Linked DNA regions of Homo sapiens: region 2 is linked to region 1. Evidence: fine-mapped expression QTL. A gene starts in region 1. The other region holds a variant in brackets. All regions are shown on one strand. Distances are between the middles of the regions. Region 1 holds the start of PRKAG2-AS2 (PRKAG2 antisense RNA 2). Region 2 overlaps GALNTL5 (polypeptide N-acetylgalactosaminyltransferase like 5).

Region 1 (5,381 bases):
AAGAAGTAAATTCATCCAGCTTGGCCAACATGGTGAAATCCCATCTCTACTAAATATACAAAAATTAGCTGGGCATGGTGGTGGGCGCCTATAGTCCCAGCAACTCAGGAGGCTGAGGCAGGAGAATCATTTGAACCTGGGAGGCAGAGGTTGCAGTGAGTTGAGATCGCGCCACTGCACTCCAGACTGGGCAGCAGTGCGAGACTATGTCTCAAAAAAAAAAAAAAAAAAAGTAAATTAATAGGATTCAAAAGTCAAAACATAACAACCTGTAATTGAAGAGTCATACCCTTGGCCCAGCCATGCCATGTCCCCAGAGGAACCACTTTTAGTTGCGTAGACAGCTAGGGTTGCTTTATGCAAATGCAAATATGAAGGCTGTTCCCTGTCTCTTATCTGTTTTGCTCGTGTCTTACTGCCTCGCCTATCTGGGAGATCTTTCAATATCAGCACGTAGGGATTTGGGGGTATCCACGTCATATGCTTTTGTCTGGAATGCTCTAGTTTAACCAGTCCCCTGTAGGTGACGCAGGCTGCTTTCAATCTTTGGCAATTACAGAGAATTAATACAATAAAAACTTGGTCCATACTTCATATTTCCAGCATAAGTTCCCAGAAGTGTGGCTGCTGCTTGCAGGTCAGTGCATTTATTATTTCTGCCACGTGCAGACAGGGGGAAGGGCCCCTTATAAAACCAACAGATCTCGTGAGAACTCACTATCACAGAACAGCATGGGGGAAACCACCCCCATGATTGAATTACCTCCACCTGCTCTCTCCCTTGACATGTGGGAATTACAATTCAAGAGGAGATTTGGGTGGGGACACGGATGTCACCACGAGCCCTCCTCAGCATTGGACAGTTTGCTCTCCTAACTATGATGTAGGAGAGTCTATTTCCCGCACTGACTCACCAACAGGCTATTTTGTTCAACACCTGGACTTTTGCTGGGTTGGTAAGACGTGGCATCTGTGTAACCCAAATTGACATTTGTTTTCTTTATTCCGTGGTGTTCCATCGCGGCACAGAGTCGGCACTTGAGGTGGCATCCTGTGGAACTGCTTCTCAAACTGCACGTAGGACATAGGTCATAAAATCCACTCAGGACACACAGGTTTTGTTGCGGCTGCTGTTCATAGAACAAAACCAGAGCTCCAGGAGTTTTCTGGGATGTCTATATCCAATAGGTCATGATGTGAAGTTCCTCGCCGTGGCTCACTGTCAAAGTCTGAAAGCCGCTGCGGAAGTGGCTCAACGCATGGCAGGCACAGGGGCTCCATGGGGTAAGTAGCCCACAGGACAGCCACTAGGAATGTGGTCCCTCCCTGCATACATGTGCTGTCTCCTGTTGAGTGGGCGAATCTGTTCCTCCATCCTTGAGTTGGGGCAGCTGTGCTCAACAGAAATGCAGCAGAAACCACACCACCTGACTTCTGGGTTAGGTGAGAAGGAACCTCGCAGTTCCTCCTGGATCTCTTGTAATGTCTGCCGCGGGTGAAACCAGCTGCCACGTTAGGAATCTGCACCAAGACCACCATGTTATGAGGAAGCTCAAGCCAGCCACGTGGAGAGGCTGCACGGATGGAGAAACAGCTGCACGGCCAGCCCCAGGGAGTGATGTGAGAGTGAAGGAGCCTCTAGGATGTGCCAGGCTCAGCTGCCACCTGACTTTTCAAATAGGAGGAACCCCCAGTGAGAACTCAGCTGAGCCAGATGACTCCTAAATCCATGAAAGATGATTTCAAATCATATTTTTAAGTTTTGGGGTGGTTTGTTATGTAGCAATAGGTGATCTTGTGACTATGTAACCCTGGGAAAGTTACTTCATTTCTCTGTTTTTTAATCTAAAAACTGGGAATCATGGGAGTTCCTACTGGAAAATGAGTTAACATATAGAAGTATAGAACCACATATGAGTTAACAAAGACATGGCTGTGATGCCTGGGACTCATTTGGAAAACATGAGTTATCACTTTAAAATGCTTCACTGAGTTTAGAGGCAATATACTATGATTACTGAACCCAGGGACACTACAGATTCTTCCTTCTCAGAGCTTTGATGAGAGGAAAGAGGCAGATTCCACCTTACCTTCAGGTTTGCCAAGATCCTTCCCCAACGTACAAGTGAAAGGGAGCTCAGGAAGGCAGAATGAAGGGACACATCAAATCCTTGGTGACAAAGTTTAGGACAGGCTGGGCACAGTGGCTCACGCCTATAGTCCAAGCATTTTGGGAGGCCAAGGCAGGCTGATCACCTGAGGTCAGGAGTTCTAGACCAGCCTGGCCAAACCTGTCTCTACTAAAAATACAAAAATTAGCTGGGCGTGGTGGTGGCCGCCTGTAGTCCCAGCTACTCAGGAGGCTGAAGCAGGAGAATCGCTTGAACCCGGGAAGCGGAGGTTGCAGTGAGCCAGGATCCCACCACTGCACCCCAGCTTGGGCGACAGAGCGAGACTCCGTCTCAACAACTATGACAACAACAAACAGTTTGGGACAGAGAAAAATCCCTGTAAACTTCAAGCCTTTTGGGGTGCTCTTGGGTGAACTCCTAAATTGCTCAAGGGCTAACTTCCTCATTTATTATTAAAAGAAAAAAGAAAAAGGCAGAGGCCAGTGGTGAAGGCTGGCGATTTCTGGTCTAGGGTGAGAGATAACAGAAAGTAACAATGGAGGCTCTCGCAGTGCTCGCAGGCACTCAAGGAACGGAAAGGAAATTGCACATTTCACCCGTGACTGCATAGGCAAACGAGAACAGCAAGTCTCTGCTTTCAGCTGGAATGTTATCAACTTCGGTCACGCTGATTATCTCAGGCTGATCAGGAAGGCTGGTACCAGGAGTGAGTGACTAAATGAAGAAATTACTAATTAACAAATGCTTGGGTGGACAATCCTTCAAAATTTAGGATCAATGGGAGGAGACAGAAGGAGTCTTGGGAGGATTTTTAAAATATGCCAGAGCTGGCTGGGTACAGTGGCTCACACCTGTAACCTGAGGACTTTGAGGTGGAGACGGGCAGACCACCTGAGCTCAGGAGCTCAAGACCAGCCTGGGCAACATGGCAAAACCCTGTCTCTACTAACACTATAAAAAGTTAGCTGGGCGTGTTGGTGCATGCTGTAGTCCCAGCTACTCAGGAGGCTGAGCCACGAGAATCGCTTGAACCTGGGAGATGGAGGTTGAAGTGAGCCAAGATCGCACCATTGCACTCCAGCCTGGGGAAAAAAAAAAGCCAGGCCTCCTAATGTACTCATTTAAACATCACTTGTGTCCACCTGGGTTCAGAATTGCGCTGGACATGGGATACACAAAGGTAAGACATGGACCCACCCTCAAGTCTGAAGGTGGAGGTGGGGAAGGGCAGAGGCTGTAAAGGGTCAGAGGGACCTTGTGGAGTGGTGGAAATGTTCCAGATCACACTGTGGCGGTGGTCACATGACTGTGCACACTTACGACAACCCATCTAATTGTATACTGTCAGTCAAAGGGCATTATATGTAAATCACACCTCAATAAAGCTGACCAAAAAGTGGCCAGTCAGCCACCAGCAGACCCATGGGATAGGGGAAGAAAAACAAGCAATCTACAGAACGTGGGAAAATGCCTATATTAAGAATCCTGGAATACTCCATGTGCTTTTTCATGCAGCGGGAGTGGAATTTTCAGGAAGCAGCTGTGCTGTGGGTGACGGTCATACTTTATTCTCTAAAACTCTCCAGTTTCAATTGGCCTCTTGGTGCCAAAGCACCATGGCGTGTTACACCTATCAGATCGGGCACACTGCCCCTTCTTCCCAACCTACGAGCTGAAATGGCCAGCACTGCGCCTTCCAGAACCCAGCGTAGATGCACAGCTGCCACGGAGGTAGGAAGAATGATTCGTTTGCCACCAAAAGCCCAGTTTCTCCAACAGGTAAGTCCCAGCAGGGTGCGATGTCCCAAACCTACACAACCGTTTCCACTGCCTATTCCCGGGCCCCTCACTTGGGTCAAGGCAGCATTTCAGAGGAAGCCAGGAGCGAGAACTCGTGCATCCGAACCCTTCTCTGACTTGGCGGGTTATTGGATTAGCTACTCTCAGAAGACCCAAAAGGCATAGGGGAGAGAAGAGATAAATCTGGATGCGGTGGAGACAACGGCCAAACAGAAAAACCGCTTGGAGAATAAAAGTCGGGGGAAGCCTGTAGTGGGGACGCTAGACTCAAGGGAAGGCTCTGGAGGAAGGAAGAGGCTAAAGGCATAGTTTCGTAACCCCTCCCTACAAACTACCCCCTTTCCCTCTGCCCAAGTGAGCACAGGGACCGCCCCGCAGCAAGACGACGGCAGATATTTAAAATGTGAGGAACCCCGGCCACAGCGGGCGGGGCTCCCCACCCATCACCTAGTGTCCTCACTCACTGCACTCCAGACTTTGTCAAAGTGGTGGCAGCTGAGTCCAGCACCAGAGATTGGTGATGCTCGGGTTGATTTCATTGTCAAGTGCATCTGGCAGGACTCTAGTTTGTCGACAGTATTCCAGACAAGGTGTAGCTGGCTGAACCGCAGTGCCTCGGCATTTGGGACCATTGAAAAATACTCTGGATTCTTTTTTTTTCTTTTGCAATTGCACAAGGATTTACTTATCTCTCTTCATGGGTGAAACTGATTTGGGGGGAAACTGCTAGACTCAATGACCAGTTGGACTGTAGGCAAGAAGGCCCATGATTTTGTTCCTCAGATAAAAGAGCAGCAGGGAAACAGGAGGCCTCTCTCCTGCAAAGCTGGTCCAAAGTGCACACAAGGCATGGCTGAGCGCCTGGTGATGCACAGTCAGCAGACGGGCGAGACCCAGGAACGTGTACTGTAACAAGAGAGTCTAGTGCAGGTTGTTGGGGGGGCTTGAGGCTATCCGCTGACATCTTTTCTCCCCAGTCAGGAGACAGTAGGGGAGATGGTTCTCATAGATCAAGTCGGGCTTTGAGAAGGAAGGTGAACAGGAGAAAAAAAAAAATAGAGGCCTCAGAAAGCCCCTCCCTCCCAAGTCTCTCCTCACAGGCGAACCACGACAGATGGCTGCGCGGCCTGAGGGCCGGCCTCCAGGCAGCCAGGGAGGAGCAGCTGCAAGTCCTGCAGTCTGTGAGACCCCCGAAGGGTCTGGGCCAGCATCCAAGGCTAAAGCCTTGGCTATCCTAACGCCGCAGTGGGGCACTTAAAGCTCCTCACGCCCAAGCCCAGGCCTGGTGGGAGCACGGTTCTCTCCCGCGCTCCCCCTCCTCCCCACTCCACGGCCACCCTTCCTTCCAATCGTCCCCCTGGAGTTCGTGTTGGAAGATGCCAGTGAGCACGTCTCAGGGCTCTACGCCTTGCACGGATGAGTATGGGGTGACTCAGAGGGAAGGGGTGG
Region 2 (5,381 bases), 190 kb after region 1:
CAAATTAAAACAAGATACAGCAATAACATAACGTGTAGGTAAAAAAAAAAGAAAAAATATTTTTAAGATTTTAAAAATGCTTGGTTGTAGAGACCAAACTGAGAATTTTAATGTGATGTAAAATAAATTATATATAATGAGTTACGTTTAAGGGTGAAAATGTGGACACTAACCAAAGAACGAAAATAAATACAAAACAGAGAAAAACAGGAAATACTGTGAAATTGATACATACGCTATTTGTTGCTTTTCAAAAAACAAGTTAACAAACGTTGCAATCCACAATCCCTAGAGAAATGGTGCAAATAGACTACGACAGGAGAGCAGAAAATAAGCTTCTACACAGGGTAAGATGGAGGACGTAGCTCCCAACTCCAAACTTTAGGGAGCAATGGAATTGTTTAGAATATTTCCACAAATACTCTTTGGAAGCAAGTAGGGGAAGAATTCCTCTATCAGGCAGGCTTGACCTCACGCCCTTTACTCATCACAAGCACTAAAGAGAATCTGATGAATGTCTGATAGGTCATCTAGCACATGAATGATAGGCCATCTCTAAAACCAATAAATAGCACGGTCCTTCCCGAAACTCTCGAAGGCAGCAGAAGTAGAGCAACCGTCCTTTCCTAGCACCAAACTTTAGGTTTCCACAAAATATTCCTGTGAAGGAGAGAAATCAGCTGAAGAGGGACCCTCACTACTACTTTGCTCTCCTTACAGGATGTAAATTTCCCCTGTTAAATATTTTATGATGAGTGAAAATAAAACCTCATTGAAATGTAGGTGCTAGGTGGCCTGTTCCCACGTTTTTAACTTAAATCAAAATTCAGTAATACCCCATATTAATTTTGCATAAAGTATAATTTTAAATTATTTTGCAATTTTTAATATTGCATTTATGGTCTTTCTGGGTCATTAGAATCCTCAAAGTTGCAAATATTTAAATCTTTCAATATTAAGGGTACAAGTGTACACTGTATACAGTAAAGAGATACCACAAATCTGTATGGGAAAAAAGACTTTTAAAATGTTTTTGTTGCAGTTGTTGTTTAATGCCACTTAAACAATTAGCCATTTGGGAAAATTTTAGGTCTTTATTTCATACCATAACCCAAATAAATTATAACTGGATTAATGTTAATTTTATTTTAAAAAATCAAACCATAGCCAGGTGTGGTGGCTCATGCTTGTAATCCTAGCGCTTTAGGAGGCCAAGGCAAGAGGATTGCTTGAGGCCAGGAGTTCTAAGACCAGCCTGACAACACAGTGAGACACCATCTCTACAAAAATTTTTATTAAAAAAAGTAGGCGAGTGTGTTGGTGCACACCTGTAGTCCTAAGCTACTCAGGAGGCTGAGGCAAGAGGATCGCTTGAGTCCAGGAGTTGGAGGTTATAGTGAGCTATAATAGCACCACTCCACTCCAGCCTGGGCAACAGAGTGAGACTGTCTCTGTAAAAACATCATCATCATCAAACTTCTTAAGGGATAATTTAAAAATATAAAAACATAGATTAATACTTGCCTGTTTTATGAATAAAGAAATTTCAAAGCTTAAAACCAATGGAAAAGGTGCTAAAAAAAAGTCTATTTTTTTAACAAAAAAATGTAAAATTGCTGCAAATAAAAAATAATAAAATTAAATAACAGTAGGCTGGGGAAATGTAACAGGACTAAAAGTTAATATTTTTAGTATGTAAAATGTACATTTAAAATCCATTAAAAATACAACTCCAAGCTGGGCATGGTGGCTCACGCCCATAATCCCAGCACTTTGGAAGGCTGAGGCAGGTAGATCATTTGAAGTCAGAAGTTTGAGACCAGCCTGGCCAACACGGTGAAACCCCATCTCCACTAAAAATACAAAAATTAGCTGGACATGTTGGCAGGTGCCTGTAATCCCAGCTACTTGGGAGGCTGAAGCAGGACAATTGCTTGAAGCCAGGAGGTGAATGTTGCAGTGAGCTGAGATCATGCTACTGCACTCCAGCCTGGGTGACAGAGCGAGACTCTATCTAAAAAAAAAAAAACAAAAAACAAAACTACTCCGATAGGCAAAGTACACGACAATTTCATTTACAAATGGCTAATCATGTGGAAAATTCAACCTCACCAGCGATTAAAAAAAAATTAACCAGATTTTTTAAAATTGAGGCACGATTAACATAAAACTGATCATTTAAAAATGAACAATTAAGTAGCATTTCGCACCTTCACAATGTTGTACAGCCATGACCTCTAACTCCAAAACATTTTCATTACCTGAAAAGAAAGTCTTTTAGCCATTAAGCAGCTTCCTTCCCTCCAGTCTCTGGCAACCACCTATCTGTGTTCTGTCTCTTTCTAGATATTTCATATCAACGGAATCATACAATATGTAACTTTTTGTGTCGGGCTTCTTTCACTTAGTATATTTTTGAGGTTCATCCACATGGTGGATGTGTCAGTGCTTCCTTTTTTATGGTTGAATAATATTCCATTCTGTGATACACCACAGTTTGTTTCTCCATTCATCCATTGATGGGCATTTGGGCTGTTTCCCTCTTTTGGCTGTTGTCAACAGTACTGCTGTGACCATGCACATATATACATTTGTTTGAATTCTTTTGGGCATGTTCCTAGGAATAGAATTGCTGGGTCTTATGGTAATTCCAGGTTTAATTTTTTGAGGAGCTGCCAAGCTCTTTTCTTCAGTGGCTGCACCATTTACACTCCCACCAGCAATGTGTAAGAGTTCAAATTTCTCCATATCCCTGCCAAAACTTATTTTTCATTTTTTAAGTTCTCGTCATCCTAGTGGAAGTGAAGTGGTTCTTCACGTTGGTTTTGATTTGTGTTTTCCTAATGACATGATGTTTCGCATCTGTTTGTGTGCTTGCTAGCCATTCGTACATCTTCTTAGGAGAACCAGATGTT[A/AT]TTTTTCACCTATCAAATGAGCAGACATGATTTTAAAATGCTAATAATGTTACGTAATATTATAGAAGCTATTTTAGGTGAAAAATGTGAAGTATAAAGCTGTGTGTGTGCTGCCAATAGTATGAAAACATATGTGTTAAAAATGGGACTCTTGTTAGCTCAGTTTTGGTTGAGGCATGAAAATCATAGCTGTAATATTCCAAAGTGAGTTGTTAGACTGACCACGATAAAGATATTTCAAAATAGAGATCTGAGAACCAATGAGATGGCTCAGCCAGATTGAGTCATGTTGTTAGAGATTAAAGGAGATTTTTGGAGAAAGCTACTGCTCAAAGCCTGGTGAGAGAGACTTGATATGAATTCAGCACATTCTCAGACATCAATACAATAAAATTGGAAATATATTGGGATTGAGGAGAAGTGAACTAATGTTAGTTTTCTGCCGAAAATCAAAAGGATAAAAAGACTGTGACCAGCTGTAGAACAAAGGACACTTGCTTTTAGATTAGTAGCTGTATTTATGGCAGAGTTTGCTTTGGCAGTGTTGGAGAGAGAGCTATAGGGATCATCTTAGATGGTGTCCGGTAGGACTATCTAGAAGAATGGACAGGCCTCAGCAGAGAAGCTGGAGACAGAACACAGGATCTTAAGGAGCTGAGAAGACAGATTGAGTCACCAGAATAGAATGCACTTGCCCAGTTTGTGGGAACTGCTGACCAGAGACCACCAGGGATGAGAAGGGAGGTCCTCAAAGTTGCTATTGCCAGCCACACACCCTCAGAGAACTCAGCCCAGAGAGTGCCCTTCAGGCAAGAGAGAACTTTCCTGTTCTCTGTACTCCTCCCCTCCCACCCATCATTCCCAACAGCACTGGACAAGTGTTTCAATTTCTCCACCACCTCCCCAACACTTGCTATTGTCTGTCTTTTTCATTCTTGCCGTCCTAGTGGATGTAAAGGGATACCTCACTGTGATTTTTATTAACGTTTTTCTGATGACTAATGGTGTTGAACATCTTTTCACATGCTCATCAGCCATTTATACGTCTTTGCAAAGATGTCTATTCAAATCTCTTGCGCATTTTAAATCAGGTTGTCTTTTTATTACTAACTTGTAAGAATTATTTATATATTCTCATACAAGTCCTTTAGTATATGTATGATTTGGAAATACTTTCCCCCATTTTGTGGATTTTTTTCTCTTTCTTTGTTTCTTTTTCTTTTCTTTTCTTTTTTTTCTTTCTTTTTTTTTTTTTTGACAGAGTCTTGCTCTGTCACCCAGGCTGGAGTGCAGTGGCACGATCTTGGCTCACTGCAACCTCCGCCTCCTGGGGTCAAGTGATTCTCCTGCCTCAGCCTCCTAAGTAGCTGGGATTACAGGCACCCACCACCACACCTGGCTAATTTTTTTTTTTTGTATTTTTAATAGAGACGGGGTTTCGCTATGTTGGCCAGGCTGGTCTTGAACTCCTGACCTCAGGTGATCCACCCCCCTCAGCCTCCCAAAGTGCTGGGATTACAGGCATAAGCCACCGCACCAGCCATTTTTTTTTTTTCATTTTCTCGATTGTGTCTTTTAAGCACAAAAGTTTTTGCTTTTGATGAATTCCAACGTATATGTTTTTTCTTATGTCCCCTGTATTTTTGGTGTCATATCTAAGAAACCATTGCCTCACCTAAGGTCATAAATATATGCTTATGTTTCCTTCTGAGTTTTATAATTTTAGCTCTTACCTTAGGTCTATGACCCATTTGATTTGATTTTTAGTATGATATGAGGTAGGGGTCTAACTTCATTCTTTTGCATGTGGATATTCCGTTGCCTCAGCACAATTTATTGAAAAGACTATACTTTCTCCATTGAATTGTCTTGGCCCTTGTCAAAAATCAATTGACCATAGACACATGGTTTATTTCTGGTTTCTGTGTCTATCCTTACACCAATGGCACACTGTTTTGATTATTATCACTTTGTAGTAACCCTTGAAATCAGAAAGCCCTTCAACCTTATTTTTCTTTTTCAAAATTATTTTGGCTAATCTAGGTCCATTGCCTTTTCATATGACTTTTAGGATCAATTTCTTTAAAAAGAGCCAGCTGGGATTGCAATAGGGATTGCACTAAATCTGTAGATTAGTATGGGGGTTATTGCCATATTAAGTCTTCTGATCAAAACATGAGATTTTTTTATACCTTTCTAATGATTTTACACTGGCTACAAGAAAAAGTCTAAACTCTGCTACTTGAAGTTTGGGGTTCCTTCTACATCAAGCCCCTGGTGTACTTCAATAATACACTTTCTCTACTTTAACCATGCCAATTATTCCCATGTCCTCTAAGCAGAATAGGTCCCCACTGAAGCTTGAACTCAAAGGCTGAGGTGGGCGGATCACCTGAGGTCAGGAGCTCGAGACCAGCCTGGCCAACACGGTGAAACCCCGTCTCTACTAAAAATACAAAAATTAGC

Evidence for each region. PIP is the estimated chance that this variant, and not a neighbour inherited with it, causes the effect.
Region 2: its variant is fine-mapped to the expression of PRKAG2-AS2 in ileum (GTEx, PIP above 0.99).

The regions. Positions count from the first base shown.
Region 1 is chr7:151,803,725-151,809,105 of GRCh38, forward strand. It overlaps PRKAG2-AS2 (PRKAG2 antisense RNA 2), which reads left to right and starts at 2,614. Exons shown (of 3, transcript NR_171033.1): 1 at 2,614-3,312; 2 at 3,648-3,911. The region is part of intron 1 of PRKAG2 (protein kinase AMP-activated non-catalytic subunit gamma 2); the gene reads right to left.
Region 2 is chr7:151,996,755-152,002,135 of GRCh38, forward strand. All of the region lies in intron 5 of GALNTL5 (polypeptide N-acetylgalactosaminyltransferase like 5), which reads left to right. Among named protein-coding and RNA genes, the nearest start is that of GALNT11, 26 kb to the right of the region's middle. The variant A/AT (reference allele first, on the strand shown) is at 2,916.